5 separate regions of the Homo sapiens genome follow, and all the other regions are reported to be linked to region 2. The links are microRNA targets in miRTarBase. Many come from high-throughput screens and were not tested one by one. Region 2 holds a microRNA gene; each other region holds the end of a gene's coding sequence.
Evidence for each region. The annotated mature microRNA hsa-miR-6499-3p reads AGCAGUGUUUGUUUUGCCCACA and lies in region 2 at 4,256-4,277, shown strand. An mRNA with a match to its seed (bases 2 to 7 or 8) in the 3' UTR can be bound and repressed. Matches are read on the target gene's strand: a 7mer-m8 pairs with bases 2 to 8, a 7mer-A1 pairs with bases 2 to 7 and ends in A, and an 8mer does both.

Region 1 (5,950 bases), not on the chromosome of region 2:
GCGTAACAGAAGACATACTTTCACTTTTCACTTTACATTCTCTTATGTTTAGATTTTTATTTAAGTGTACTTTTTAAAAAGACTAGTTTAAAAGTTGTTTTATACAGTCCAAGGTGATAATTTATTGTAGTAGTTTTTTTTTAATTTTATTTTTTGAGATGGAGTCTCCTGTCACCCAGGCCGGAGCGCAGTGGCTCGATCTTGGCTCGTTGCAACCTCTGTCTCCCGGGTTCAAGCGATTCTCCTGCCTCAGCCTCCCGAGCAGCTGGGACTACAGGTGCACATCACCATGCCCGACTAATTTTTGTATTTTTAGTAGAAACTGGGTATCACCATGTTGTCCAGGCTGGTCTCGAACTCCTGGCCTCAAGTGATCTGCCTGTCTTAGCCTCCCAAAGTTCTGGGATTACAGGCGTGAGCCACTGCACCTGGCCAGTTCTAGTAGTTATTAAACCATGCATTGGAAGACCCTGCTGGAATATAAGATGCAGAGCACAGAAAGAAAACTAAGTGAAGAAAGAATTGTTTCGGAGCCTTGTAAGGAATACTCACGTCCTCCTTCTCCAAGCTGGGCTCCCTGAAGTTGGCAATTTCATCAAAACAGTATCCACTTAAAAGTACCCTTAACTTTTTCTTCCAAAGTTACACAGTAGCCCCAAGTTCTACAATGCCCACTTCATGTTTTCCTGAGGCACCCTGGAGACGCCAAAAGCATTTGAGAATGAACGGGCCTTTTTTTTTTTTTTTTTTTCTTTTTTGAGCCCAGGCTGGAGTGCAGTGGTGTGATCTCGGCTCACTGCAAGCTCCGCCTCCTGGGTTCACACCATTCCCCTGCCTCAGCCTCCGGAGTAGCTGGGACTACAGGCACCCGCCACCAAGCCCGGCTAATTTTTTTGTATTTTTAGTAGAGAAGGGGTTTCACCGTATTAGCCAGGATGGTGAACATGCCTTTAATGCAGCCTTGAACAGGAATTGGCCAAGCCTTGCCAACTTGATAAGGAGCAAAAAAGGCTCTAAAGGTGTATGGCTCCCCAGATTTCTGGAGGGCATCCAAATGAATGAGAACAGGGCTGCAGGTAGTCACCTGCAGCATCCTCCTGGGCACGATGACAGAGGGAAGTGTCTCTACCAAGATCCATCATGGGGGACAGGTTCCCATAGCCCCGGACACACAACCTAAAAACCGTGGTTCTGTGGACCGACACCCGTAAGACCCTAGAGCTGGAAAGGCCCACCTGTGAAGGTCATTCAGCACTCCACCACCCACCCCCTACCAGTACAGCTGAAAGCTCTGGACCAGCGGGTGACAGGCTGATGCATCTGACATTTGGGCGGAGACCTTCCCATGACAGCAGGATGCCTCAGGTGCTGGGACCACTGCTGCCTCCCTCCTTTCTCAGCAGTCGTCTATGTTCCTCTGAGACTGCTGGCTGAGAAGCCATCAGGTGGGTTCCCTGATGAGACTGACACCCTCTCTGCTCTGCTGGGAGCCTTCCAACACTGCAGCCACCTACAGTCACATGCATGCCTGCCACCTCCCCAGTGGCCTCTGCATGGAATCTCCCAGAGAAATTCCACGTTCCAGGAAGGTTGTGCATCCATTAATTTTCATTGTTATTCATGGGGAAACCCAGTGCCAGGCTTCTTGTGGACCATGCAGATGGTTTTTCAGCCCAGCCCACAGCCCTGCCCTGTGGGTAGTGGGATTCCCCGGAGGCTGGTGAGGACAGCTGCAGCAGAGTCCTAAGCAGACATATGGGAGAGGTCAGAGAACTGGCGAGCCTGGGCCTCTGAAGCAGAGAAGCAGAGGACATTCAGGAGGTGCAGTGTCTGGTGCTACAGAGGCTGAAGAAGGCCAGAGTTGACAATTGGGATAAGCAGCTTTCAGCTACGTGGGGCATGGTGGGTGGTGCAAAGGAAGGGGTACAGACAGCCCAGATAAGAAGCTGCCTGGGAAAGAAAGGGAGGGAGCCATAGGGCCTCGGCAAGTTTTTAGGATGGGAAAGGAAGGCCAGCGATAGGAAGACGGGACAGGAAAAATAACGTTGACAAGATCCTGAGAGGGGGTGGACCAGGGTTGAGGAGGGGGTACAGGAAAGACCCCAAGGCTTTAAAGTTAGCATGTGCATGGTGAGGTGAGAAGAGGGTGCAAATGCCACAGCTGGCCTCCAACCAGGGAAGGCGGGGATTCAGGACAGGCCAGTGCTAGGTGGGGAGTGCACAGGAGGCCTGCCCTGTGCCTCTGTGCGGACAGCCGATGCTGGGCGGAGACTGCCACGTGACCGGCTCTCATCCTTGCTTTCTTTCCATTCCTCATCCAACTATTCAGAGTCACATGATATGGCTGAGAACAGCCAGAAGGGTCTATAGTTGAAAGATAAACCCAACTCTGCAAAAATCGCACCGAGACTTCATCCTAAACCAGGTCTACAGGAATAGATGGGTCAGGCCTGCAGGAGCCTTCCAGGAGCTCTGGCAGGGAGGGTCTGTGGCCACCCACTCCCCCAGGGGAGGCTGGGTCAGAGGCATCTAGTGAGGTGGGCACTGCCACCAACCCCCTTCACAGAAAGGCCGGCACACCCAGGACACACAGCTCATGCAGCAGCAGTGCCCAGGCTTCAATCCCATGTCCCCACTTCGACTCAGTGTCCCCAAGCTCTTCTGCTTGGATCAATAAATAGTATCGCACAGGGGTGGACAGAAATAACCTAAAACAATGTTTCCTCTAGACCTATGGAGTTGAAGTTTCTCCAGCTCTCACTTATAGCGGGGGATAAACCACAAGCCAACTTGTGCGGCTGTGGCCGGCACACAAGGGCAACTGAAAGTGCTGCCATACAGAATCTTAAAAAAAAAAAAAATTACTCAATGAAATGTAAGTCAGATTGTGCTGATGATGGACTGCCTTTACCATCCATCCTTCTGTAAGGTCTACATACCCTATCCCTTGGTTCCTCTGGCAGCCGCGTTTACCACTGAGATGCTTAGCAATATCTCAATAGTGACCCCAAACAAAAATGACCAAAACAGCATTAATATAAAGATATATTCCATAAAAGAGTTTGGCAGTCAAAGAGAAGCATCACACTTCCGAAAAACACAAGCATTCTTCTCCTAGTCTACAGAGAATTGTGTAAAAAAAAAAAAATCATCATCAACAGCCACCAGTATACACCACACTAGAATGTACACTCCGGCAAGTAAATTAAGGTTGCAGTCCATCCCTGAACGATGAGAAGTGGTCTGAGCTATGGCAAAGTGTTAGAAAGTAGCCCAGCTAGACAAATGCCCCAGCTATCCCCAGGGGAGTTATTCAGTACTTAAGACTTCATTTCCAAGAGCAGCCCCAGAAAAGCCCTGACAGGAAGGGTGGACCAGTGATCACCGATATCCCATTAGGGGCGGTCACCAGAAACAAAATGCCTGGAGCTTCTGAGCAGCTGCAGCCTGGGGTTGTGGCTAGGCACGGGGTGTGGTTGCAGAAGAACGGCTGTCTCCGGGGAGAGGCAAATGGCAGGCCAGCCAGCCCTGGGTACATGGCCACAAGAGGAGCCCTGGCCAACAGTTTCAGGCTGGCCATCTTGGGCTGGGGCTCCCTGGGCTTGCAGTGGGGAGGGTCAGGATTCAAATTCTGGGTGACAATTTCAGTAGCACCAAGACCAGAAGACAGTGAGGCCACGCTGGGGAGTGGGGGAGTGCTTGTATGTGGGATGCATGGAGGGAGGCTGCAGTATGTGGAGGAGAAAGAGAGGCTGTTGTGGGCTGGTTCTTAAGACACTCAAGGGGACTCAAAGGGTCGGCTCCAGCCATGGACACTATCTAAGGCTGCTCAGAGGAGAATGCTGGAGGAGAGGAAGAGGAAGTGAAATGGTGTGAGAACATTCTTACCCCTATAAATAAACTATTTACACACTTTAAGAAAAGGAGAGCCGGCTCTCAGTGAAGAACCATGCCCACCGCGCCACCGGCGCCATCAGGGCTTAATGCTATCAAGACCAGAGGCAGTTCCGGCGCCAGGAGAATAGCTGGTGGACACAGGGGGACAGTGGACAAGGCACTCCCGTGGCACCAGTCCACGCACTGGCTCAGGCTTACTTCACTTGAACATGGCTGAGGATCCTGCAAACAACCCCTGATATGTGCATGTCCCAGCAGACTGCGCTGGCACTCAGAGGCCCAGCGGGGCCACGTCCGCCTCCCGTTACGGGCAGGCCCCCATGCTGCTTTGCTTGATGGAGAGAGATGCCCTGTCCACGCCTGTGGGTCCCTCTACCCACGGCCCACCCACAGATGTGGATGACCCAAAGCAGATGTCTGGATGCCAGTGGAGAGGGGACCAGGGTGTCCTGCAGACATGCTTGAGCTGCAGGGGGTCTGAGTCAAGCCCTCCTGGCAGCCACAGGAGCCCTCTCTGTCTTTCAGAGTCACCACTCCCACATAAAGACACATTCTCTGTCTCTGGGTAGACTCCAGAGGGATGCAGTCACAAGTTTGGGCAGGTAACAAGGGGGACCCTTGGTCTTCAGCACCAGCAAGCAGAAACAGAGAGGTCACGTCACGCTGATGCTTAAGATGGGGCACTGGCTCTGGGGGTGTCGGCTCCTCTCCCTCTGGACGTAGGGCTGATGGCAGAGAAAGGCTCTGGCCTCCCAGCGTGGCTCAGCTCGGCTCCCTCAACTCTGCTCCTCAGAAGTGATGGCCGGCCTTCACTGCCTCGATGTCTGAGATCAGCGTCCTTGCCAGGAAGATGCCAAATATCTGAAACCAACACCAGCAGAGTCAGCGGCCATTGCTGGGGCCCAAAGGCAGAGGGCAGGGAGCGGAGGGTGGGGTTGGGAGCTCCCACTGCACGCCTCTCCTCACCCCCCAGCTGCGACTGAAGACGTAGAGACAGCACCGCAGAGCGAGTGGCACAGCACAGCCACCCCTCCCGCAAAAAAGGGGTCCTGGGGTCTAGTCTGTTACATTCCCAAAGCCTAGAAGAGGCAAACCACAGGCACCACAAGCAAAACAGACACTCTGTCCTGCCTCCAACATGATTAAGTATGTCACAAGCCATGGGGCAGGACACGCCTGTCCCTGGGTTAAACCAAAAATAACAGGGTCACGCTGACTGGTTCTCATTCCCAAAATAATAAATCTTGAATGTTTCCTGTAAACGTCGATTCCATAATAAAACCAAGGCCATCCCCAATTTTGGCTGTGCTAATAATGTCTGAAGATCCATCCCAACCTTGGTGAGCAGGGAAATCATGAGAGGAGACTGATGTTCTTCTAACGTGAACAGATGAACACGAACTTGGTGACCTCTGGAAATGGCTTTTTTTCCCTTTAAATTCTTGTGTGGTTCTAATTTGACTAGTCAGTCCTTCTGAAGTCTGATTCTTCCCTTGCCTATTTTGCAAATAACTTTTTTCTTTCCTTTTCCAGTTGCTTCCTCCTATTTCTTAGTCTTCCTTGAAGGAGGAAGGCATGTGTGGGTGGCTGGTGGCCCTGGGTCTACCTCAGTCACCCTCTTCAAGGCAAAAACAGAGTCAAACACTTTCTAAATGGTGTTATTTTCCACACAAGAAATGCATCAGTGGACCCAGAAGCTGCGGCTTCTTGGAAGCCCTGAACAGCACTGGAAAGACTCCTGGTTTCTCTGATCACTGAATTCTTGACTTTCTCTGCCAGTTCTTCTCCTAGCAGTCACCAACCAGCCCAGTCACCCCAGGCCTCACTGCCTGCTCAGCCACCAACATCCTCCCACATGTGCAACCTGGTTCAAATGAACAAGCACAGCCTGGGAGAGGAAAGGATGCCACAAACGGCAGCAGGCCTCAGAGGATGTCTCATGGACAGGGAAGATACCTGACAACTCCAGCCCAGGGGCCAGAGACAGGAGGAGAGGTCCTGGGGCAAGTGCACACACGTGAGCCTCAGGCCACCCTCAGGCCCCAGGTGACCA
Region 2 (5,950 bases):
TTTATAAGTGTTCAATTGGCTTTGCAAATCGCAACATTCCCTTATGTAATCCAGGTAATAACTAATTTAAATACATGATTCAGCAGTGTGTGATCTTGAGCAAGTCATCTCTCTACAGAATAAAGGGTTTAACCTTTGTTCTCTAAGGATCCTTCCTGCCCCAATGGGCTGTGTTTCTAAGACCCAACATTGCCCTTGGGGAGCTCCTGGTCTAGACAGCAAAGTCAACAACTACCTCAAAGGCAGGCAGAATGAATGAGCAGCAGCTTGATGTCCAGGCACCATCTACAAGCAGTCAGAGTGCTGAGGACTCATTCCAGATGACATACCCAGACACGTGCGAAAGGAAGGACCGGGACTCATTCTGCTCTTTGCCTTCTTTGTCACTCTCGGTCTCAGGAGAACTCCCCCATTGGCAGCAAAGTCCTGCAGCTGATCCTGAGTGACCCAGATTCTCCAGAGAATGGCCCCCCCTACTCGTTTCGAATCACCAAGGGGAACAACGGCTCTGCCTTCCGAGTGACCCCGGATGGATGGCTGGTGACTGCTGAGGGCCTAAGCAGGAGGGCTCAGGAATGGTATCAGCTTCAGATCCAGGTGAGAGCTGTGCTAGGCTTCTGGTGGTGACCATGGGGACAGTAAAGATGCTGGCAAAAGCCCCACCAGTGCTTCTGTCATTAGGGAAAAAATGTACAAAGCACTTAGGATGCATCAGGCACTGGGCTAGGTCCTTCTCAGGACTAAAGCCTCATAACACTCAGGGCAGGTATAGTTACCACCCCGCTTTACAGATGAGGAAACTGAGGAACACAGGGGATTTAAGTGACTGGCTTAAAGTAATACTGGTAATAAGTGGCAAAGGTGGGTTGCTTCAAACCCAAGCACTCTGACCCCAGACTCCAAATTCTTAATCCCTGCTCTGTGCCTGGGCAAAACACCCTCTGGCTGTAGCTCCTAGAGCTTAGCCAGAACAGCTCTCTGAACCTCAGGAGCTAAAACAACCTACCTCAGAGAACTGGCTTGGGGCTCAAGTGAGATATTGTATGCACATGTGTGTAGGGGATTCTGGTGGTGGTGTTATGGGTTTCATAGGAATTGCTAAAGAACAGTGGCCAAGATGGTGGTCTGATATCTCTCCCTCACTTTATTTCTCCAAATCTCTTTCCTAAATCTCAAGTCCAGTGGACCCTACTATTCTGTAAACTTATGGGCTGGGAATGATGTATTCATTCTTTCAGTCAGTCAGTCCATCTCTCGACAAGTATTTATTGAGCATCTACTACATGCGAGGCCATTTGCAAGCTGCTAGGAACATAGCAGAGGGTAAGGAGGGAATGATTCCTGTCTCCAGGGGCTTTCCATTGTAATCATGGAGATAAACAATAAACAGATAAAGAAAGAAATAACATCTTTACAAATGATGATAAGGAAGTAAAGTGATGAGAGACTCATAAGACAGGGGGACACACATTCAGAGGGAGGCTGCCCCCAGGAGGTGACATCTGAGCAGAGAGCCAAGCTGCCAACCATGTGAAAAGTGGGCAGGAGAGTCTTCCAGGCAGGAAGAGCAACATGAGTTGGGAAAGAGCCTGAAGTGGCTTGAGGTATGGCTGAGGTACTGAGAACATCATGAGCAGGGGTGGGAATGAGGCTGAGGAGATAGGCTGGGTAGATCATGTGGGCCTTGTGGCTTGGATGACTGTATTATCTGAGGTCCAAACTGTGATCTTTGAGAGTGAGAGAAGCACTGACTTAGTCCATTTGGGCTGCTACAACAGAACACCATAGGCTGGGTGGCTTAAAGGACAGAAATGTATTTCCCACAGTTCTGGAGGCTGGAAGTCCCAGATCGGGGTGCCAGCATGGCCAGGTTCTGGTGAGTGCCCTCTTCTGAATGGCAGACTGTCGGCTTCTCATTGTATCACATGGCCCTTCTCATAAGGGCCCTAATCCCATTCACAAGGGCTCCACCTCCAAATACTGTTACACTGGGGATTAGATTTTAACATATGAATTTTGAGGGGACACAAACATAGAGTCCAAAACAGGCACTAAAAATAATACTTGGTAGTAGCTGATTTACAACAGGTAAAAATCAAGACTGTCCTTGACAAACCAGGGCATCCAATCTTCTAAGTATAAGCCTTGGTAACACTTTTAGATTCTAATCTAAGTACAATGAGAGGTGGTTGGAGGGTTTCAGACGGAAAAGGGATCCTCTTTGTGTCTCAGGAAGCTCATTTTTCAAGCTCTATAGAGTGGGTGAGGGAGACCAGTGAGAAGTCATCCAAGCTGGAGATAGTGGGGCTGAGACCACGGAGTGATGGAGAAGATGCAGGAAGCGGAGAGATTTCGGACATATTTTGTATGTAAATTGATAGGAGTTGGTGGAGTGGATGTGCAGTTAGAAAGAACAGAGACGATTCAGGGGTGATTTCTAAATTGTTGGCTCCCATGAAGACTTCGGTGGTAGTGCATTTATGAGACTGGAAAGGCCCAGACGGGAAGGCAGGACAGGTTTATGGGCTAAACCGAAGCTCTGTTTTGCACATTATTTCCCAGTTGTTTGTGAGACATCCAAGCAGAGGTGTCCAGTGGGTAGCTGGGAATTGGAGTTGGCAGCTCAGAGGATTGGTAGATGGCCCTCAAAGCCAAGAGCATGGATGTGATTGCCTAGGGAGAGATGAGAGAGAATGGCTTCCTGACCTCTGTATTCTCAGACCCAGGCACACGTCCTGCCTAGACAGGAGCTTAGTAATGACTGGCATCATCACCATCAATTGCATTGGTCCCGTACTTCCACTTCCATGCACTGGGAGGCACCATAGGCCAGCAAAGAAAAACACAGGCTATAGACACAGATAGGTATTCAGATTCTGCTCAGGCCTTATCTGCTGCTGTATGACCTTGGGCAAGTTACTTCACCTCTTTGAGCCTCAGTTATATTTTTTGTAGGATGGGTGACTTGATAGTACCTATCTCATAAGAAGGATAAACTAGGATAATGTATTTACAGCATTATCATAGTTTATCTATGATAATGACTAGCATTGTACTCAGTTAATGTTAGCTATGTATTATATATAATCGGTAGTAGTAGTATTGTTGTAACTAATGTTAGCTATACATTATAATTAACAGTAGTGTTAATTATTATTGTTGCTATTAATATCTCTTCGGTGTTATGCATGACTTCCAGCAGTAGGTGTAATCTTATCAACTTTCTTGTACATTAAAAGTGTTGGAGTGCAGGTGAACAAGATATTACTACAGGGAAAATTGTGGAGACCCTCGTTGACAGCTGAGGAAGTGATAACATCACTGAGGAGAAGAAGGCAAGCCTGTCCTTTCTAAGTCAGGCAGGAAGTTGCAGGGATGTGTGGTGAAACATGAAAGGAAAATGCGTTTATGATTTACATTCTTTTCCCTACTTAAGTGAGGTCCTGTCACCCTCACGGCTTTTCACAGTTCTGACATTAACTGCAACCCTGCGCGTGCCAGCCCATCAGTGAGGTCAGGCCTGCTTCCCTGCCCACTTGCTCCAGCACCAGTGACCCCGTCTGTGCTGTTGAACACACCGCCTTCATTCCTACCCCAGGACCTTACACTTGCTGCTCCCTCTGTCTGTCGCCTCTTCTTCTCATCCCTCAGGACTCAAATGTCACTCCACAGAGACTCCTTCTCTTCTACCTGATCAAAGTTAGGTCTCTGTTTATTTCCTTCCCAGCATTTTATCCAAGTTATTTGGTAACTTATTTATTGTCTCTTTTCTCCTGGCCACAGCAGAAGACTTCGTTGACTGACTAGAAGGACAAATCCCGACTCCCACTCCAATCGCATAGCAAAAGGGAATCCCAAGGGGAATTTTCGTAGGCTGAGCAGGGTGCATGGTGCATCAGAATTGCTGAGACATCTGAGGGCGCCCTTGAGGACAGGGACAGAATGAGAAACTTCATGAGGAAGTTAGCCCAAGTCTATGGCTGGAGAGATTTAGGAAGAGGCTCAGAGAGATGTCACATGAGGAAACTGCATTGTTTTACTGCATGGTATAGGATGTAACTCCCTCCTTCAATCTCTACAAAACCTTCAGAAAATCTTTCTTTTCTGTCAGTGCTTTTGGAGTTAGGTTTTTTTTTTCTAAATGCAACAATGCGCTGAGCCAGCCCTCAAGTTGGGCGTGGGGCAGAGAAACGTAGCTCCACAAGGAGGCCCAGCCTCAGTCGGGCGCAAGAGCACTGCAGTTCTGTTGGGTGACAGCAGTGTTTGTTTTGCCCACAGGCGTCAGACAGTGGCATCCCTCCCCTCTCGTCTTTGACGTCTGTCCGTGTCCATGTCACAGAGCAGAGCCACTATGCACCTTCTGCTCTCCCACTGGAGATCTTCATCACTGTTGGAGAGGATGAGTTCCAGGGTGGCATGGTGGGTAAGATCCATGCCACAGACCGAGACCCCCAGGACACGCTGACCTATAGCCTGGCAGAAGAGGAGACCCTGGGCAGGCACTTCTCAGTGGGTGCGCCTGATGGCAAGATTATCGCCGCCCAGGGCCTGCCTCGTGGCCACTACTCGTTCAACGTCACGGTCAGCGATGGGACCTTCACCACGACTGCTGGGGTCCATGTGTACGTGTGGCATGTGGGGCAGGAGGCTCTGCAGCAGGCCATGTGGATGGGCTTCTACCAGCTCACCCCCGAGGAGCTGGTGAGTGACCACTGGCGGAACCTGCAGAGGTTCCTCAGCCATAAGCTGGACATCAAACGGGCTAACATTCACTTGGCCAGCCTCCAGCCTGCAGAGGCCGTGGCTGGTGTGGATGTGCTCCTGGTCTTTGAGGGGCATTCTGGAACCTTCTACGAGTTTCAGGAGCTAGCATCCATCATCACTCACTCAGCCAAGGAGATGGAGCATTCAGTGGGGGTTCAGATGCGGTCAGCTATGCCCATGGTGCCCTGCCAGGGGCCAACCTGCCAGGGTCAAATCTGCCATAACACAGTGCATCTGGACCCCAAGGTTGGGCCCACGTACAGCACCGCCAGGCTCAGCATCCTAACCCCGCGGCACCACCTGCAGAGGAGCTGCTCCTGCAATGGTAAGTACTACATCTTCCCTAGGGACGAGCAGCACTGCTGGGCTCAGCCCGCCTGACTCTAAGCATGGAGATTCCACTGAGGCTCTGTGGGAGAGTTCAGGGAAGTTTTAATAAGCCCAAAGGCCACCAATCACCATAAGACGGCTAGTGGCCTCACAAAATCTAGTTATGGAATAATACCCAATTCTCAGCTCCCTTTCGAGATTTAGAAAATAACAGTAAGACTACAATATGTGGTTTAACATCATGGCTAAGAGCATAGGCTGTGGCTTCAGTCTTCATGGGTTAAAATCCCAGCTCTACCCCTTACTAACCAGGCGACTTTAGGAAAATTAACCTCTCTGTGCCTTTGAGCTGGGCTGCTGTAGGAATTACATCAGTACTATGTATCAAGTGCTTGCTTAGAACAGTGCCTGACATATAGAAAGTGGTCAATACATGTGAGTTACTAATACTGCTACTATTATTACCATAGTCTGGTGGTTATAAGCTCAAGGCTTAGACTCAGACAGCTCAGGTTCAAACCCTAGCTCCATCAGTCACTAGCTGTGTAACTTTGGGTGTATTGTTAAAACCCTCTGAGCTTTTTAGTTTCCCATCTATAAAATAGTCAAAATAAATACATCTGCCTCCTGGAGTTGGGTTCGGGGGGGAAATTACGTAAGAGTTATAAAAGCACTTAACCCATGGCTGGCCCACAATAAGCCCCAGATCAACGGTGACTGTCATTCCCGTGGTAGCAGTTGCTATAGGGAGCCTGCTGTACGCCACACTCTGTGTAGATGTCACCTAAACTAATCGGCACCACAGCCCTACCAAGCAGGGTCATTAGCCCCATCTGCAGTTGGAACTGAGATATGA
Region 3 (5,828 bases), not on the chromosome of region 2:
CTCCACTGACCAGTGCTCATGTACCACTCCCATCTGGAATGGAGTTAGTCCCCCCAGCCTGCAGGTGCCTTGTGTGAAGCGTTTCCAGCCAGGCAGTCTCACCTCACTTACCCTGGGCTGGTTCTGTGTCACCTCATGCATGTTGCCTTTGGAGTCATTGCCATATTTGACCTGGTGACCTGTATAAAATGTCAGCTTCCGAGGGGAGACCACTGTCCACAATAACAACAAGGTTGTACACATAGGCAGGCTGGCCTTGGGGAGCATTTGCTGGGCTGCGAGAGCCACCTGGCAGGCAGGTGGGCTGGAGCCAGGTGGGAGGTGGGCGGGAGCCAGCAGGAGTCGCGAGGGTGGGGCCCCCTCAGGCCGCTTCTCTGGGTGATGTCATATTTGCCACACAGCAGCCTGGTGGCCCTGCCTGTTGCCTTTGAAAGAGAGCCTGCCGTGATCCTGGCTGTTTCTGTCTCCAGGTATGATGAAGAATTGGCCCAGGGTGACGGGGCTGACCGGGAGCTGAGAAGCCGTCAGGGTCAGTCTCTGGGGCCCAGAGCAGGCCGATCGAGAGACTCGGGGAGAGCGGTCCTCACCACCTGGAAGTGAGTCCCACCTGGACCTTATCAAAACTACTCACTCCACCTGGGCCCCTGCTGAAGCCCTATTTTGAAATTTCCCTTTTGTAGAGCTTTTTTCCTTTCCTAAGCCCTGTAAATAAACGAAGGCACTTCTTTGGAAGGTTATGGAGTCTGTTTGACTAGTGCTAAAGGAAACAATTCATGCGGATGTATAAAACTCGCTCTTTTTTTTTTAATTTTTAACCTAAGCAGAATTTTCATATTAAAAACTCACTTTTTTGACAGAAAGTAACAGCTTCAAGCATGTAATTTGATGTGTCACAAGGTTTAAACATTAAAAAAACTTTACACTAAATTAAAAACAAAACAAATCTTATAGACTCGTCCTGCCACGAGAGAGGAATGTATTTAACTGACGGCTCTTTTAGTTGCGTTTCTTTTTACTTGACTGCGATTTTTTTTTTTTTTCCCGAGACAGAGTTTTGCTCTGTCGCCCAGGCTGGAGTGCACTGGCACAATCTTGGCTCACTGCAACCTCTGCCTCCTGGGTAGTATTTCTCCCACCTCAGGCTCCCAAGTAGCTGGGATTACAGGCGTGTGCCACCACACCTGGCTAATTTTTGTATTTTTAGTAGAGATGGGGTTTTGACCATGTTGGGCAGGCTGGTCTCAAACTCCTGACCTCAGGTGATCTGCCCACCTCGGCCTCCCAAAATGCTGGGATTACAGAGGTGAGCCACCACGCCCAGCTTACTTGACTGTGATTTTGAAGAAAACAGGCAACTAGAAATATTCCTCGGTAATTTATCTTTACAAAGGCCTTTGTCTAGGTGCTCCCAGGAAGACCTGTTTTCTTTTCTTTTCTTCTCTTTTCTTTTTTTTTTTCTTTTCAGACAGGATCTCGCCCTGTCACCCAGGCTGGAGTGCCGTGGTGCCATTGTGGCTCAACTTCCTGGGCTCAAGTGATCCGCTCACCTCAGCCTCCCGAGTAACTGGGACCACACAGGCACACACCACCACCCCCAGCTACTTTTTAAAGTTTTTTTTGTAGAGACAGAGTTTCACCATGTTGGCCAGGCTGTTCTCGAACTCCTGGGCTCAAGCGATACTCCTGCCTAAGCTTCCCAAAGTGTTGGGATTACAGGCATGAGCCACCACGCCTGGCTTCAAAAAGACCTGTTTCTACCACTTCGGTTTTGTGGATGAGTCTGTTGTAAATGGAACTAGATGAGCACAGACAGGTCCGGCTGTGTGCCTTTTATGACGTCAGCAGCTGGGTTTGCTACAGGGAAGCGCCGTGGGCAGCCAGGAGCTGTGGGAGGAGCGATGGCTGCGGGACAGGCTGCGCGAGCGTGGTTGTTCCCATGCAGTCTCCCGGTAGCCCGGTGACTTACAGGAGTGTATGGAGAGGACCTGAGTTGGTGGGTAGATGGACAGATGCATTTGAGTAATAACTCATGAGTTACAGTGCTGTTCTTAGGAAGGGTCTTTTTTTTTTTTTTTTTTTTTGAGGTGGAGTTTCACTCTTGACACCCAGGCTGGAGTGCAATGGCACAATCTAGGCTCACTGCAACCTCCACCTCCTGGGTTCAGGCGATTCTCATGGCTCAGCCTCCCAAAGAGGTGGGCTTACAGGCGCCTGCCACCACGCCCAACTAATTTTTGTATTTTTAGTGGAGACGGGGTTTCACCATGTTGGCCAGGCTGGTCTCGAACTCCTGACCTCAGGTGATCCTCCCGCCTCCGCCTCCCAAAGTGCTGAAATTACAGGCGTGAGCCACTGCGCCCGGCCAGGAAGGGCCTTTTACTCATGGTCGTATTAACACGTATTTGCTGAAGTTTCACTCGCTGTCTTGAGTTTATCTTTAAAGCTTGCCACCTGTTTTTGTTGCAATGCTAGTAACAGGAGTTTGTTCTCCCAAATGGCACCAAGGGTATGTCCTTCAGATAAGGGTCTTAACTGACTTGCCCAGGCTCTCTCAGTGCCCATGCATGGACGTGTGTCAAGTGTACATGCCATATTGTGTGTGTGTATATGAGTACATATATTTAATGATGTTTCACTGCCAATTAGGGAAAAATAGGTCTTTTCAACACAAATGGTACTTGGCTGGACTCCAAATAAACTACAATTGGTGGGCTTTTCAGCCATTCCTTCTTCGTGATCTTATTGGTATGTGTGTTGTGTGTGTTCCCTGGTGTTTAAGTTTTGTTTTGTTTTGTTTTGTTTTTGAGACAGAGTCTCGCTCTGTCGCCCAGCAGGCTGGAGTGCAGTGGCGCAACCTCAGCTCACTGCAATCTCTGCCTCCCGGGTTGAAGTGATTCTCGTGCCTCAGCTTCCCAAGTAGCTGGGATTACAGGTGTACACCACCATGCCCGGCTAATTTTTGTATTTTTAGTAGAGATGGGGCTTCACCATGTTGGCTAGGCTGGTCTCAAACTCCCAGCCTTAGGTGATCCGCCTGCCTCAGCCTTCCAGAGTGCTGGGAATACAGGTGTGAGCCACTGCGCCCAGCCGTGGGGTTTAGTTTTAATGTGTTTGCTGTTGATGGCGGGTGTGGGATGGAGATCCCCGAGTCAGACTTGGCCTTGTGGCCTGGCTCTGCTGTTTATTAGCTGTTTCCCAAGCCTGTCCCTGGGGTCGTTGCACCTTTGTTTCCCACTGTATAAAATGGGGAGTTCTGTGGCCGGGCGCAGTGGCTCATGCCTGTAATCCCAGCACTTTGGGAGGCCGAGGAGGGTGGATCATCTGAGGTCAGGAGTTCGAGACCAGCTTGGCCAACATGGTGAAACCTCATCTCTACTAAAAATACAAAAATTAGCCTGGAGGCTGAGGCAGGAGAATCGCTTGAACCCAGGAGGCGGAGGTTGCGGAGAGCCGAGATGGCGCCATTACACTCAAGCCTGGGCAATAAGAGCGAAACTCCGTCTCAAAAAAAAAAAGGGGGGGAGTTCTGTTTGCCTCAGAAACAACCAGTACCACCGCACAGGGACCCTGCCCGCACGCCTTGCTGGCTCTGGCGAGCCCTCTTACCTCCCAGGAGGGGGTGTCCTCTGCACAGCTGGCGGCTCCACCTCGGCTCCTACACGCAGAAGTGAAAGACACCCCGTTAACTGTTCCCAGCTCTTCCACCGGTTTTTACAACCCGGTTCTCAGTTACATTGTGTTGTTTTTGCCTCCCTCTGGGAGAAGGGTGGAGTCCCTGGTTGGGAACGTTGGCCTCTGAGGCTCCGGGGCCACGCAGTCCTAATGGAAGAGTCACACCAAGTGGTTAGTTTGCTGGTGACCCAGTTGCTAGGTGAGAGTGAGGCTCTGCTAAGTGGATTTATGTCATATAGTGACTGTCTCATTAATGATTTAGTGATGTCATGTTCTGGGCAGATGTTTCCTCTGAGCACTTCCAGGACACGGGTGGGAAGGGTGCGGTGTTGGCAGCAGGCCTCGGGAGGCTGTCGGGCCAGGAACAGCCCCATTCAGCGCTAGGCTGGGGCTAAGCAGTGAGCCCTGCTGGGAGCTGTCCGGGAGCCGTTGCTGTTTTCTTGTCAGCCCCCACACACTTGATGGGGTGGGTCCCAGGCCAGAGGGTTGCATCCTGTGGTCGTTTTCACCAAGTTTGATAGGCTTGGTTTTCCCAATATAAACCCATCCTCGACTGGGCACAGTAGCTCACGCCTGTAGTCCCAGCACTTTGGGAGGCTGAGGTGGGTGGATCACCTGAGGTCAGGAGTTTGAGACCAGCCTGGCCAACAAGGTGAAACCCCGTCTCTACTAAAAATACAAACATTAGCTGGGCTTGGTGGTTCATGCCTGTAATCCCACCTACTTGGGAGGCTGAGGCGGAAGAATCACTTGAACCCAGGAGGCGGAGGTTGCAGTGAGCCGAGATCGCACCATTGCACTCCAGCCTGGACAACTGAGCAAGACTCCATCTCAAACAAAAGAAAACCACCATCCTTCACCTCCTTTGCACACGGGCTGCTCCCCGGGTATTAGTGAGGGCCTGGTGACAACCTTCTCACTGTCTCCCTTCTCCTCCTCCGCCTCCCACCTGGGCTGCCATGGAGACCCCATCAGTCTGGACCCGCATCTGGTTGCGCTCCACCAGCTGCTAGGACTTTCCTCACAGGGGGCCATTTCCCCTCCACACAGTGGTTCTTCAGGGTGCTCCATAAAGCCTCCTATGCTTGCCACCCATTGGCCTGTTGGCTCACACTGCCACACACCATGTCCACCAGTGCCAAACACACGCAGCTCCTCTCTGAGTGCCCCCAGGGGCCAGCGCACTCTCCACCCTCCCCTCTGGAGCCATTCCCAGCTGTGCTGCGGCCGCCTGGCCCTCTCCCCGCAGCAGCCCTGCAGCCCCTGTGGTCTGGGGAGGCCAAGGTCTCCTGCAGGGCCCTGCCTGCTGGTAACGGCACAGCGACTGGGGCTGCTCAGCGACTGGGCACCCTCAGGCTGTTTGTGTGTCCCCTAATGTGAACTGTGCCCCAGTGGAGGGCCCTGGGGCACGTGAGGACCCTTTGTGAGCAGGTGGGAGCACATCCACTTTTGATTCCAGTCTCTCATTGTGGAAGACGAGGGATTTTGATCTTCACTGATTTGCCCCAGCCTGAACCATATTAGATCTCACATCCTGTGAACAATGGCGGCCTCCTGCTTTTGTCCTGAGAAGCATTCGGAGCGCTCCTCCAGTGACAGATGCAAACCCACCTTGCTTATGCTCCTGCCCGGCCGCTGGCGCTCTGTCAGCAGGAACAAGTCTAGGGGCCCATGGCGTTCCCTCAGGCCCAGGCCCACCCTGCCTGCCACTTGGCCAACATTCCCCCACAATTCCAGTTTAACTCACCTAATCTCCCCTCCCCTTCCCACCCCTCCCCTCCCCCCTCCCCTCCCCCCTTTCTTTCCTTTTTTTTTTTTTTTTTTTTTTTTTTTAGACAGAGTCTCACTCTGTTGCCCAGGCTAGTGGCACAATCTCGGCTCACAGCAACCTTTGCCTCCTGGGTTCAAGTCATTCTCATGCCTCAACCTCCCAAGAAGTAGCTGGGATTACAGGCATGCGCCACCATGCCCGGCTAGTTTTGTTTTGTTTTGTTTTGAGACGGAGTCTCACTCTGACACCCAGGCTGGAGTGCAGTGGCGTGAGCTCAGCTCACTGCAAGCTCCGCCTCCCAGGTTCATGCCATTCTCCTGCCTCAGCCTCCCGAGTAGCTGGGACTACAGGCGCCCGCCACCACGCCCGGCTAATTTTTTGTATT
Region 4 (5,950 bases), not on the chromosome of region 2:
AAGGCCCAACCAAGGCTTGGCCGGGCACGGTGGCTCATGCCTGTAATCCCAACACTTTGGGAGGCCGAGGCGGGTGTATCAACTGAGGTCAAGAGTTCGAGACCAGCCTGGCCAACGTGGTGAAACCCTGTCTCTACTAAAAATACAAAAAAAAAAAAAAAAAAAAAGAAAGAATTTAGCTAGGCGAGGTGGTGGGTGCCTGTAATCCCAGCTAGTTGGGTGTCTGAGGCAGAAGCACTTGAGCCTGGGAGGCAGAGGTTGCAGTGAGTCAAGATCATGCCATTGTACTGCAGACTTGGTGACAAGAGCAAAACTCCATGTCAAAGGCCCAAGGCTGTCACTGGAGCATCCCTGTTAAATGTGAATCTCATCCAAAAACACCCTCCCAGAGGCATCCAGACTCACGTTTAATCCGGTTTCTGGGCCCTGTGACCTAAACAAGTTGACACATAAAACTAACCATTGTGAGAACATGGTTTGATTACAGATCATGGGATTAAAACCTGAGATGCCAGAAAGAGAACATTCACTGAGAATGGGTTGTGCTGGGAGGATAGGGATTGGGGTGGGGGGAAGAGGGGGAGCCGCCTGGAGAGGAATTAGAGGAGGTGTTATTGTGCAACATGCTTTGTATATCACACACCTGTGAAGCCTTAATACAGACCCAGTGACTTCTCAGGGTTTTTCTTATGGGTAGGTTTGGGTTTCTTTTGAGGGTGACCCCATGCTGAGAAAGCTTTCTGGTAAGAGGAGGAACACCTGCTTTGATGTCTGATCTGTAAGCACCACTCCAGATCTCATATTCTGGGACAAGTGACAGGATTGTTGGGGGATTTGCTTTCTGGAGACGTTTCTGCAACGGACACCAAGTCCTGATGTGAGCTTTCTGCTCTCCTGTAGATGTCGGGAGTGAATACAAGGAGATGGAGAAGCTGCACAGAAGCCTGAGGGAGGTCGCGGAGAATGCACGGCTGAGGAAGGGCATGCAAGAATTCCTCCTAAGGGCATCCCCCAGCAAGGCTGGCCCCCCCGGGACATCACTGTAACTCCTGGGGCTTAGTCCCAATGGATGAAAAATCAGCCCAGAGCCAGAGAATTAGAATTACTTTTTTTGTTCTTAAGAGACAAGATCTATCTACCTCTGTTGCCCAGGCTGGAGTGCAGTGGCACCATCACAGCTCACTGCAGCCTCGAACTCCTAGGCTCAAGCGATCCTCCAGCCTCAGCCTCCAGAGCAGCTGGGGCTACAGGTACAGGCCACCACACCTGGGTAATTTTTTTTTTTTTTTTTTTGAGACAGAGTCTCGCTGTGTCACCCAGGCTGGAATGCAGTGGTGCAATCTCGGCTCACTGCAACCTCCACCTCCTGGGTTCAAGAAATTCTCTGCCTCAGCCTCCCAAGTAGCTGGGATTATAGGCGACTGCCACCACACCCGGTTAATTTTTATATTTTTAGTAGAGACGGGGTTTCATCATCTTGGCCAGGCTGGTCCTGAACTCCTGACCTCGTGATCCACCCATCTCTGCCTCCCAAAGTGCTGGGATTACGGGCATGAGCCACCGTGCCCGGCCCATACCTGGGTAATTTTTTAATTTTTTGTGGAGATGGCATCTTGCTCTGTTGCCCAGGGTGGTCTCAAACTCCTGGCCTCAAGTGATTCTCTCCCACCTCAGTCTCTTGTGCTAGGATTGCAGGCATGAGCCATTGTGCCTGGCTCAGAATTCTTTCTGTTTTGTGAAATCTAATAGAGGACATTTCTCAACTATTTGGACTTTGCATGCAATATAAAACTAGTATGTTTACTGCATTTTATTTTATAGCCCCAAAGAGTCATCTTCAATACCTAATGGAGTTCTAAAGCTTTAGGGCAAGAAACTTTTGCTTCCGCAAAAACATCTAAACATCGCTGGGCATGGTGGCTCACTCCCGTAATCCCAGCACTTTGGGAGGCTGAGGCGGGCGGATCATGAGGTCAGGAGATTGAGACCATCCTGGCTAACACAGTGAAACCCCATCTCTACTAAAAATACAAAAAATTAGCCAGGCGTGGTAGCATGTGCCTATAGTCCCAGCTACTTGGGAGGCTGAGGCAGGAGAATCGCTTGAACCCAGGAGGCATAGGTTGCAGTGAGCCAAGGTCGCGCCACTGCACTCCAGCCTGGACGACGGAGTGAGACTATGTCTCAAAAAAAAAAAAAAAAAAAGAAAAAGAAAAAAATATATATATATACACACACACACCCATACATAAAAAAACTTAAACATTATAGAAAAAACATTGCACGATATAAAACAAGCCATAAAAAGAAATTCATCCTTCAATAAAGAAAAATATCTAAACGTTGAAAAACTTAAGTATTATGGAAAACATTGCAAAATAAAGCTTTTAGGAATCCAATTCTGTTTTTTATTTTAGTACTGATGAGACTTTGGGTAAGGAGGCAACATCGTATCCTGGAAACAAAATGGGTTTGGGAGCCAGATGAACATAGACCCGGCTTCATCACTTCTCAGATGTGTTATCTAAGGCCAGCACTTCCTAAACATTTTGATCTCAGGACTCTTCACTTTTAAAGGACGCTGAGGAGCCTTTGTTTATGTGGGTTATGTCTGATGATATTGACTATTCGAAATTAAATAGGAGAAAATGTAAGTAATTATTTACTAACTTTTTTAGAAGTAACAATAATAAACCCATTACGTGTTAACAAAAATAACCCATTGTTATGTAAAAAGCTATTTAAAAAAAAGGTACTGAGAAGAGTAACATTGTTTTACACTTTTGCAAATCTCTTTATTCCCTGGCTTAATAGAACACAGCTGGATTCTCATATCAGTTTCTTCATCTACTCTGTTGCAATATATTGTTTTGGTTGATGTATATGAAAAAAATTCAGTCTCACACAGATATACAGTTGGAATACAAGGAAGTATTTTAATAGCTTTTTCAGGTAATTTTGGGATATATTTTGATTCTACAAAGGCAGATGGCAGTTTCTTAAAAGTTAATTGTGGTGTGGATCTGAAAGCATTATCAGTGAACATTTTTCAAATGCTATTACATTAAAGTGCACTGGTTGATTTTGTACTTTGAATGATTTTTTTTACTAATGCATGATTTTGTGATATCAGGCATTGCTCATCTTGAAAATATTTATTCGCTGAGTTAAGCAAATATTCCAAGTGTTGATGCATTTTATTGTATACTACCATGAAATCATTTTGTTAGTGTCTTCACCAATCTCATCAGGAAAGTATTGCAGTATTGGGAAGCTGTCAAGCTCACAGTGAAAAATATGTTTTACAAAATTCCATCTCCCCCCCAAAAGCTCATCTTATCATTGATGACAAATGTTGTCAGTTGCTTTCTTTGAAGTGATAGATTCACTTTCCTCATTTTTAGGAAAGTGTTTACTATATAACTGTATATGATGAACTATAGTTTGTCAGTCATTATTTCAAATAAAAATGATGTTCCAAGAAAAAAGTGTCAAGTTCAGCCTGAAACTCAGACACTCAAGGAAATGCTTTTCTTTGCAGAAGTGCTTTAAGTGTATTTCCCATTTTGTCCCACAGAATAATAAAATGACATCTACATAGATGTCCATAATTAATACAATTAATAACATACTGTTTCATTTAGAACATTTTAAAGTCCAACTGGCTTTTTAAAAGCCCTGAAAGTTCATGACGGTGAAAAATACAAGAGTTTTGAATGTAGTTTGGTGCCACTGCTTTGGTTCATGCCAAGGTGCAAGTTGTTTTACCCATCTTTGCTTTTACACCTTTAGTACAAGTGTGAACATGGTAGAAAAGGAAAATAACATCTTAGTATTATTATAAAAACAGTTTAACCCAGCAGACCCCACAGAAGAGTTTCAGGGACCATATTTGAGAACAGCTGTCTTAGACAAATCATTTAAACCCCCTGAGCTTCAGGTAATTTATCTGTAAAATGGTGACAATGGTAGTACCTACCCTGATACTGCTAGGGTTGTCAGGAAGTTTAGGATAATGCTTACAAAATATGGACACATTGTACTTAATAGTACTTGATAAATGGTCACTATTGTTTATGGGCAGAATGGAAATAACATGGTTCAGTGGCTTGTCTGTTGGGAAACTTGGGTTCTGATCCCAGCTCTGACCAATACTAATATGACAATTCCTTAACACCTCTGAGATTTTATTTCCTCATATACAAAAGGAAAGAGAGGAACTGGATGATTAAAACATCTTTTGCTCCTTTGAAATTCTAGGATTTTAAATTCTTTTCTTTTTGTTATAATACCTTTTGCCTAAGTAGGAGAAAAAGGGATTTAGCCATGTGGTTATGTCTCAGTGGTTCATTTTCACATTAAACTTCTAAACACATAGCGTTCTATTGCAGTTTGTATAGTTCACTTTTCATATTTCACGAGAGGGATGTAGAGGACTTCCACCTCCAGCCATGGTGGAGTAACAGGACCAGATTTACCCTCTGGTTAAACAACAACAACAACAACAAACAAACAAAAATTATGAAACAGCAATTTTTAGATATGGGAAAATAGTGCAACACAGTCACCCCTGAAAGAAGGGAGGGAGATAAGGTGAGGCCTACAATGCTTTATCTTATGACTTGGTTGAGTTTCCAGACCACAGCACAGGAAAGGGAAGCCCCAAAGGAACTGAGTGTTCTCCCTGAGTTGAGGGGACAGAGATCAGAGTTTGAAGAGTCCAAGGTGATTAGAATTCACAGGGAAGATTACCATGGAGAAGAGAGCAGGACAGAGAGCTCCAGAGATGTGAAGTGGGTCTCCTTTGATTCTTTATCTGAGTACTGATAAGCATATGCCTGTGAGGAAACTACCAAAAATGAGGAAAGAACCCCTGGAATGAAGCCAGCAGAAAAGTCCGCAAAGCTCAGTTCAAGCTAGGTTAGCCATAGTGGAAGACCTTACACCTGAAGCATCGAGTAGACTGATCAGAAGAATATTGCCTTAGTAGTGGGGTCAAAATAGTCCTCAGTGAAAGGCTGTTAGGCATCCACCTAATAAAGGTTTTAAAAAAACTTCAGAAGAATCATACTGTTTCCAAGTAACTTAACTGCATCCCAGAAGAAAACATGAAAACATTTAGGCATAAAAAATTCCAGCGCTCAACAATGGAAAATTGACAATGTATGGCATCAAAACAAAAACTTCCAGGCATATGAAGAAGCAGGAAAATATGAACAATAATGAGAAAAATCAATAGAAATAGACCCAGAAATAACTCAGGTGATAGAGTTAGTAGACAAGGTTATTAAAATTGCTATAAGAAATTTACTCCAGATGCTCAAGAAGATAGAATAAAGCATAAACACAATGAGAAGAGACATGGAAGAAATTCAAGACTCAAATAGAACTTGGAGAGATTTAAAAAGTCTCAGTGTCTATATGGGATTAACAGCAGACTAGGTAGGGTAGAAGAAAGGATAAGTAAACTCAAAGACAGAGCAATAGAACTTACCCAAAATGAAACACAAGGAGGAAAAAAATGAACAGTGCATCAATAAAACATCGAGCACCCTAAAATATACATTACTAGAACCACAGAAGAACAGTAAAGATGTGGGGATATAGGAAAAAATATTTAAGAGAATAATGTCTGAGGTTTTTCCAAACTTGATAAAAATTATAAACCCACAGATCCAAAATGCTCAATGACTCTGAAGCAAAAGAAAAATAAGAAAAAATACACCAAAACACATCATAATCAAATTGCTGAAAACCAGTGATGAAAAGAAAATCTTAAAACCAGCTGGGTGTGTTAGGGGTGAAGGGGAGGCTGCAAAGGCAGTGGTGGATAATACATCCAAAGGAATAAAAACAATGACAGCAGACTTGTAAGCAGATGACAAGTGGATAATACATCCAAACGAATAAAAACAATGACAGCAGAAACGATGTAAGCCAAAAGTCCGTG
Region 5 (5,950 bases), not on the chromosome of region 2:
GTCCAATAGTTCACCTTTTGACATGAAGGGCCAAGTTCCACCTTATTTTAATGTTAAAACCTTACCCCAAAGTGAACGTGGGATTTGTGTTACATATGTTTATCCATTGCACGTGTGTTCAACTTCCCTCATAGATATGTATAACTTTTCTCCCAAAACTGCTGAATATGTTTTACTCTATTGTGTGATACAGGCCCTGTGAGGCATAAAAACCAATCTGCCCTTTTCCCTCTGGGAAGAGAGCACTTTTGGCATAAGCTGGAGACTGTCTCTTCCCGCTGTGCAAACTGAAATCACCAATATAGCTCTCCTTTCTACTATTTAGCCATCCTGGTGGTCTTTTGGATGACATATTCTTCTTCTTTAAAGGAACATGGTCTGACTCTGTTGCCAAGGATGGGCTGAGGTGGTGCCATCTGGATTCACTATAGCTTCAGCCTCCAGGTCTCAAGTGATCCTCCTGCCTCAGCCTCCCAAGTAGCTGGGACTACAGGTATGTGCCACCATGCCCAGCTAATTTTTTAGTTTTTGTAGAGATGGGGTCTCACTATGTTGCCCAGGCTGGTCTCAAACTCCTGGGCTCAAGCAATCCTCCCACCTCAGCCTTCCAAAATGCTGGGATTACAGGCATGAGCCATTGCACCTGGTTGGATGACAATTCTTTAGGTTTATCTGTGTTCTTATTTTAGGTTTGGAAAGATGGTATGACACTGTGATGTATAATAAGATATGCAGTATGTATAGATAGTCTTAGTCCCAGTATTCTGGCACACAGCTCCTAAAACCCTGGGAATCTCCAAAGTGATAAATGGTTTTTTGTATGCTAATGAAATGACAGTGATAAGTGGGTTTCTGCATGCCAGAAGCTCCTGGATAGCTTCAAGATAGGGGCTCCTTGCCCAGGAACTAACCACGTGATTAAAGAATTCCGGCTTTCAGCCCCAACACCAACCTTGAAGGAGAGGAAAGGCTGAAGGTTGAACTTATCACCAGTGACCAATAATTTAATCAATTCTGCCTACATAAGGAAGCCTCTATAAAATCCCAAAAGAAAGGCAGAGGCGGGTGGATCACTTGAGCCCAGGAGTTCAAGACAAGCCCGGGTAACATGATGAGACCCCGTCTCTACGAAAAATACAAAAATTGGCTGGGCGTCATGGCGCACACCTGTTAGTCCCAGTTACTCAGGAGGCGGAGAGGGGAGGATTGCGTGAGCCTGGGAGGCAGAGGTTTCAGTGAGCAGAGATCATGCCACTGCACTCCAGCCTGGGTGACAGAGTGAGAACCTGTCTCAAAAACAAAAACAAAGCCAAAGTCCAAAAGAAAAGGGTTTGGATAGCTTCCAAATTGCTGAACAGGTGGACATGCCTAGAAGGTGGGGCACCCAGAAACGGTGTGGAAGCTCTGGACTTCTGCTGGCCTTTCCATATGCATCTCTTCCATCTGGCTGTTCATCTGTATACTTTATTATATCCTTTATTAATAAACTGGAAAATATAAGTAAAGTGTTTCCCTGGGTTCAGTGATCTGCTCTAAGCAAATTAATCAAACCTGAAGAGGTAGGCATAGAGACCCCGATTTACAGTGGGTTGGTCAAAAGTACAGGTCACAACCTGAAGCTTGTGATTGGCATCGGAAGTGGGAGGCAGTCTTGGAGGATTGAACCATTAAACTGTGGGATCTGACGCTATCTCCAAGTAAATAGTGTTAGAATTGAATTAAATTATAGGACCCCCAGCTGATGTCTGCTGGAGAATTGCTTGGTGTGTGGGAAAAACCCCCATGCATCTGGTCACAGAAGCTTTCTGTGTTATACTGAGTGAATGTAAGAGTAAGAAGAGCACTTTGGGTGAGGTGCAGTGCCTCATGCCTGTAATCCCAGCAATTTGAGAGGCTGAGACGGGCAGATCACTTGAGGCCAGGAGTTCGAGAACAGCCTGGCCAACACGGCGAAACTCTGTCTCTATAAAGAAAGAAAACTAAGAAAAAATTTAAAAAGAAAAGCATTTTGATCTTTTCCCCCATCTCTATTAGATGGTGTGAATGTACCTGGTCTCCAAGCTTTTTGAATTGTGTCTATCAGCAATACAATTTTGAACTGAAATCCCTAACGTAAGAAATGTACACAAAACCACAGAAACTTAAAAGGACGAAATAAAATATATAAATAGATGTTCTAATATTCCCACACCCCTTGGAAGGTCATGTGTACCTGCTGTCCATGCACCCCATTTTGGAGGACACTAATGGAAGAGTAAAGGCAGTGTTGGTATCTGTAGTGTGAAGAGGCCCAGGACTGCTTCAGATGATCTCTACACCTGGAATCTGACCTGAAATAAGCTCTGATCTGAAATCAGATCTGAAATCTGTAATTAAGAATCTGACTTAATTTATGTTTGACTGCTGGTGGCTTTTAAGCCTTATCCCACCCCTCGTCCCCTTATGCCCTACACCTCTGGCAAGCTAAGAAAGCCTGGGTGCTCGCCAGACATGGTGGCCCATGCCTGTAATCCCAGCACTTTGGGAGGCCGAGGCAGGAAGATGACTTGAGCCCAGCCTGGGCAACATAGTGAGACACCATCTCTTTAAAAAAATAAAGCAAGCAAGCCTGGGTGTTTCCTTCTTTGATACCAGTGGGAAATTCAAACCACATGCAAGAAACATCACTCTGGCCCTACTCCCTAACCACCAAAAAACTCCAAGTCAGTCTCCTTCCCTGTTGTCAAATCCTGCTTAGGAGCTGCCCTGCTTTCCCCAGAAAGCTTCATTATGTGAGTAACAACCCTTTCATACTCTGTTGGTGTGTGTGTGGCTTCATCAGTCATTTTTTTTTTCTTTTTGAGACAGGGTCTCACTGTGTTGCCCAGGCTACAGTGCAATGAAACAATCATAGCTCACTGTAGCCTCCAACTTCTGGGCTCAAGTGATTCTCGTGCCTCAGCCTCCTGAGCAGCTGGGACAACAGGTGTGCACAACCATGCCCAGATAATTAAAAAATTTTTTTTCTTTTTTTGCAGAGATGGGGGTCTCTCTCTGTTGCCCAGGCTGGCCTTGAACTCCTGGCCTCAAGTGATCCTCCTGCCTTGGTCTCCCTAAGTACTAGGATTACAGGCGTGAGCCACTGAACTTGGCTATCAGTCTGGACATGTGAACCAAATTTTGAGTGTGGAATGCATCCTGTCTCAGTGCGGGATGGCCACAAAAAAATAGCATCCTCCTTTACAGTCCATCTACTCCTTTCTTTTCATAGCATTTAATACCACCTGACATATTATATATTTATTGTTTGTCTTCCCCACTAGACAGATCCCCAGCTTTAGTAAAGTGTTTGGTATAATCATCCGAGTGGCTACTTTGCTAGCAGTTAAAGGCACTAGTGCTACAGTCGTGAACAAGGCCCTTGCCCACATGAAGTGTACACTCCAGAGAGAAGGGTAGGTGTTCAATACATATTTGTTAAATGATAGACTATTAATATTATTTTGTCTGGAGGTAAGATATTACAAACATATCATAAATTAAATTTTTTATTCATTTTTTTGCATCAAAATAGTGCTTAAAATTGGAATTTATACTCACAAGACATAGCTAACATCCAAAGTAGACAATTAAAAAATATTATTTGAAAATTATGTACTTAGTACTGAAGACTTCCTAAATTTGCACATTAGCTAGATTGCCATTAGCACCATTAGAGAGTTGATCTTTGGCTAATGATTATTCAGGAAAATTTCAACCATTACAATCAGTGAGTATAATTTTATATTTCAGCAACGATAGTGGTCATGTTCAGCAACAGCTTCACTTACAAATTAAAGTAAGCTCACTTCAGTGTTGCACTCTGATGCTGTTTTTTTACCCCTTCTCTTGCAAATAACCAGTGAAATAAAAATTGCTTCTAACTGGCAATCGAAACAAGGGAGGAATTATGGCTAGCCAACTAGTTGCTAATGTTTGTGTTTTTTTTATTTAAGAAACATTTTAAATAATAGAGATGGGGTCTCACCATGGTGCCCAGGCTGGTTTAAACTCCTAGGCTCAGGCAATCCTCCCACTCGGCCTCCCAACATGCTGGGATCACAGGCTTCAGCCACCATGCCCGGACTGCTAATGTTTGTGAAAGGCAAATTGTAAACTTCTATGGTTTAACTTCACCAGAAGGGTAAAGGGCTCCCCACCTGCCACCTTGTTCTATAAAAAAAGTATACTCTGATTACTAGAATGGATTTTTAAAATTCAATTCAAAGATTCAATAACTATCAACATTTCTAAACACTGATTTTTCTTTTTCTCTTTTTCAAATGTTTTTTAATATCCTGCAGGTAATAACACTGATTTTTCTAATACTCAGAAACATCTACTTAGCAGTTGTGATACTAATTTGCAAAATGTAATAATGTTATACAAATATAAGATACTACTAAATACATAGTAGAAATAATTGCATGATTCCTGATATTTATATTCAAGGTATAAACATGACTGATTTCGCTGATACTACAGAATAAAAAAAATAAAGCTGCTATGTAAAAAATTAAAGAATATCTCAATTAGATATTTTTGTTCCCAATCTCTTTCAGACAGATCTATGAAATAATATAGAATATACTATCAATATGTTCTTTCATATGAAGTGAAAAAAATGGGATTTAAGTAGTGAGATAATTTCTATTTTTTACTTTTTTAAAAAAATAGACAGGGTCTTGCTATGTTGCCCAAGCTGGTCTCAAACTCCTGGGCTCCAGTGTGCTTCCTGCCTCAGCCTCCCAAAGTGCTGGGATTATAGGCATGAGCCATTGTGCCTGGCCTGTGGGATCATTTCTATTGGTTTTATATCAGTATTAATTAATAAGTCAATCAATTAATTAACCTTAATTATTTCTTTTTCTAAATAAGTATCAGCTGATTTAATCTCGCCCAATTGAATGCGTCTCTTTTGGTTGATCAATGCGATAGAGAAACTCTGCAGGTAAGAAGTATCCAAGATATTCCACTATATCTGGAGTAGTGTCATAATGGTAGTGTCCACCTTCTCCATGACGACTAAAAAAATGAGTGTGCTCCAGTCGCAAATCAAACCCCTAAGATAACAGACAAACAATATGTTAGTACTCAAATTATTGATTAGAGTTTAAGGGGGAGGGATAACTTTTTACGTTGCAATAGTTTTTATTTTTTAAATAGGTAATACATTCACATGTTCTAAATTCAAAGGGGGCAAAACGATGTATTCAGTAAAATGTATCTTCTTCTCTCTTGCCCTCACCACTCACTCCCCTTCCTAGCAGGTAACCAGTGTAAGCATTTTCTTGTATATCCTTCCATAAATACTTACTTTTATTTTTACTCAAATGTAGTATTTTGTACACACTTTTCTGCATGTAACTTTTTTTCATGTAACAATATAGTTTTGAGATCTTTGTATATGAAATCATAAAAGAGCTTCCTCATTCTTTTATACCTGCATGGTATTCTATTGCGTATGTAACTTCTCAACTGACACTTGCATTATTTCTAATTCTTTTGCTACTACAACAATACTGTAATAATAACCTTTTAACTAGTAATTTTACACAATTATGCATATATTTAAGTATAATATCCTAGGCATGTAATCACTGGATCAAGATATGACCAGGGTAGGCGGAGTAGCTCATGCCTGTAATCCCACCACTTTGGGAGGCTGAGGCGGGCGGATCACTTGAGGTCAGGAGCTCGAGACCAGCCTGGTCAACATGGCGAAACCCTGTCTCTACTGAAAATACAAAAATTAGCCGGGTGTGGTGGTGAGTACCGGTAATCCCAGCTACTCAGGAGGGTGAGGCAGGAGAACCACATGAACCCAAGAGGCGGAGGTTGCAGTGAGCCGAGATTGCATCACTGCACTCCAGCCTGGGCAACAGAGCGAGACTCTGTCACAAAAAATAAAAAAAAGAGAAGATATGACCAA

Region 1: miRTarBase lists TSPAN14 as a target of hsa-miR-6499-3p. Seed matches in the 3' UTR shown: 7mer-A1 at 3,604-3,610, 8mer at 1,823-1,830 and 7mer-A1 at 774-780.
Region 3: miRTarBase lists TTLL1 as a target of hsa-miR-6499-3p. The part of its 3' UTR that is shown has no 7-base or 8-base seed match.
Region 4: miRTarBase lists NUGGC as a target of hsa-miR-6499-3p. Seed matches in the 3' UTR shown: 7mer-A1 at 1,181-1,187, 7mer-A1 at 1,349-1,355 and 7mer-A1 at 2,146-2,152.
Region 5: miRTarBase lists C11orf54 as a target of hsa-miR-6499-3p. Seed matches in the 3' UTR shown: 7mer-m8 at 2,261-2,267 and 7mer-A1 at 1,856-1,862.

Annotation. Positions count from the first base shown.
Region 1 is chr10:80,516,713-80,522,662 of GRCh38, reverse strand. It overlaps TSPAN14 (tetraspanin 14), which reads right to left. Exons shown (of 9, transcript NM_030927.4): 9 at 32-4,758. The coding sequence ends at 4,687. Among named protein-coding and RNA genes, the nearest start is that of TSPAN14-AS1, 16 kb to the left of the region's middle.
Region 2 is chr5:151,520,415-151,526,364 of GRCh38, reverse strand. It overlaps MIR6499 (microRNA 6499), which reads left to right and starts at 4,217; the gene lies at 4,217-4,278. FAT2 (FAT atypical cadherin 2) reads left to right here. Exons shown (of 24, transcript NM_001447.3): 18 at 400-597; 19 at 4,279-5,089. It also overlaps a transcript of SLC36A1 not described here. RefSeq lists an enhancer at 4,212-4,381.
Region 3 is chr22:43,034,548-43,040,375 of GRCh38, reverse strand. TTLL1 (TTL family tubulin polyglutamylase complex subunit L1) reads left to right here. Exons shown (of 11, transcript NM_012263.5): 11 at 471-860. The coding sequence ends at 600. It overlaps TTLL1-AS1 (TTLL1 antisense RNA 1), which reads right to left and starts at 1,791. Exons shown (of 3, transcript NR_125362.1): 1 at 112-1,791. RefSeq lists an enhancer at 5,828.
Region 4 is chr8:28,018,413-28,024,362 of GRCh38, reverse strand. It overlaps NUGGC (nuclear GTPase, germinal center associated), which reads left to right. Exons shown (of 19, transcript NM_001010906.2): 19 at 901-2,399. The coding sequence ends at 1,046. Among named protein-coding and RNA genes, the nearest start is that of SCARA5, 29 kb to the right of the region's middle.
Region 5 is chr11:93,760,646-93,766,595 of GRCh38, reverse strand. C11orf54 (chromosome 11 open reading frame 54) reads right to left here. Exons shown (of 9, transcript NM_001286069.2): 9 at 1,847-5,081. The coding sequence ends at 4,908. Among named protein-coding and RNA genes, the nearest start is that of MED17, 21 kb to the left of the region's middle.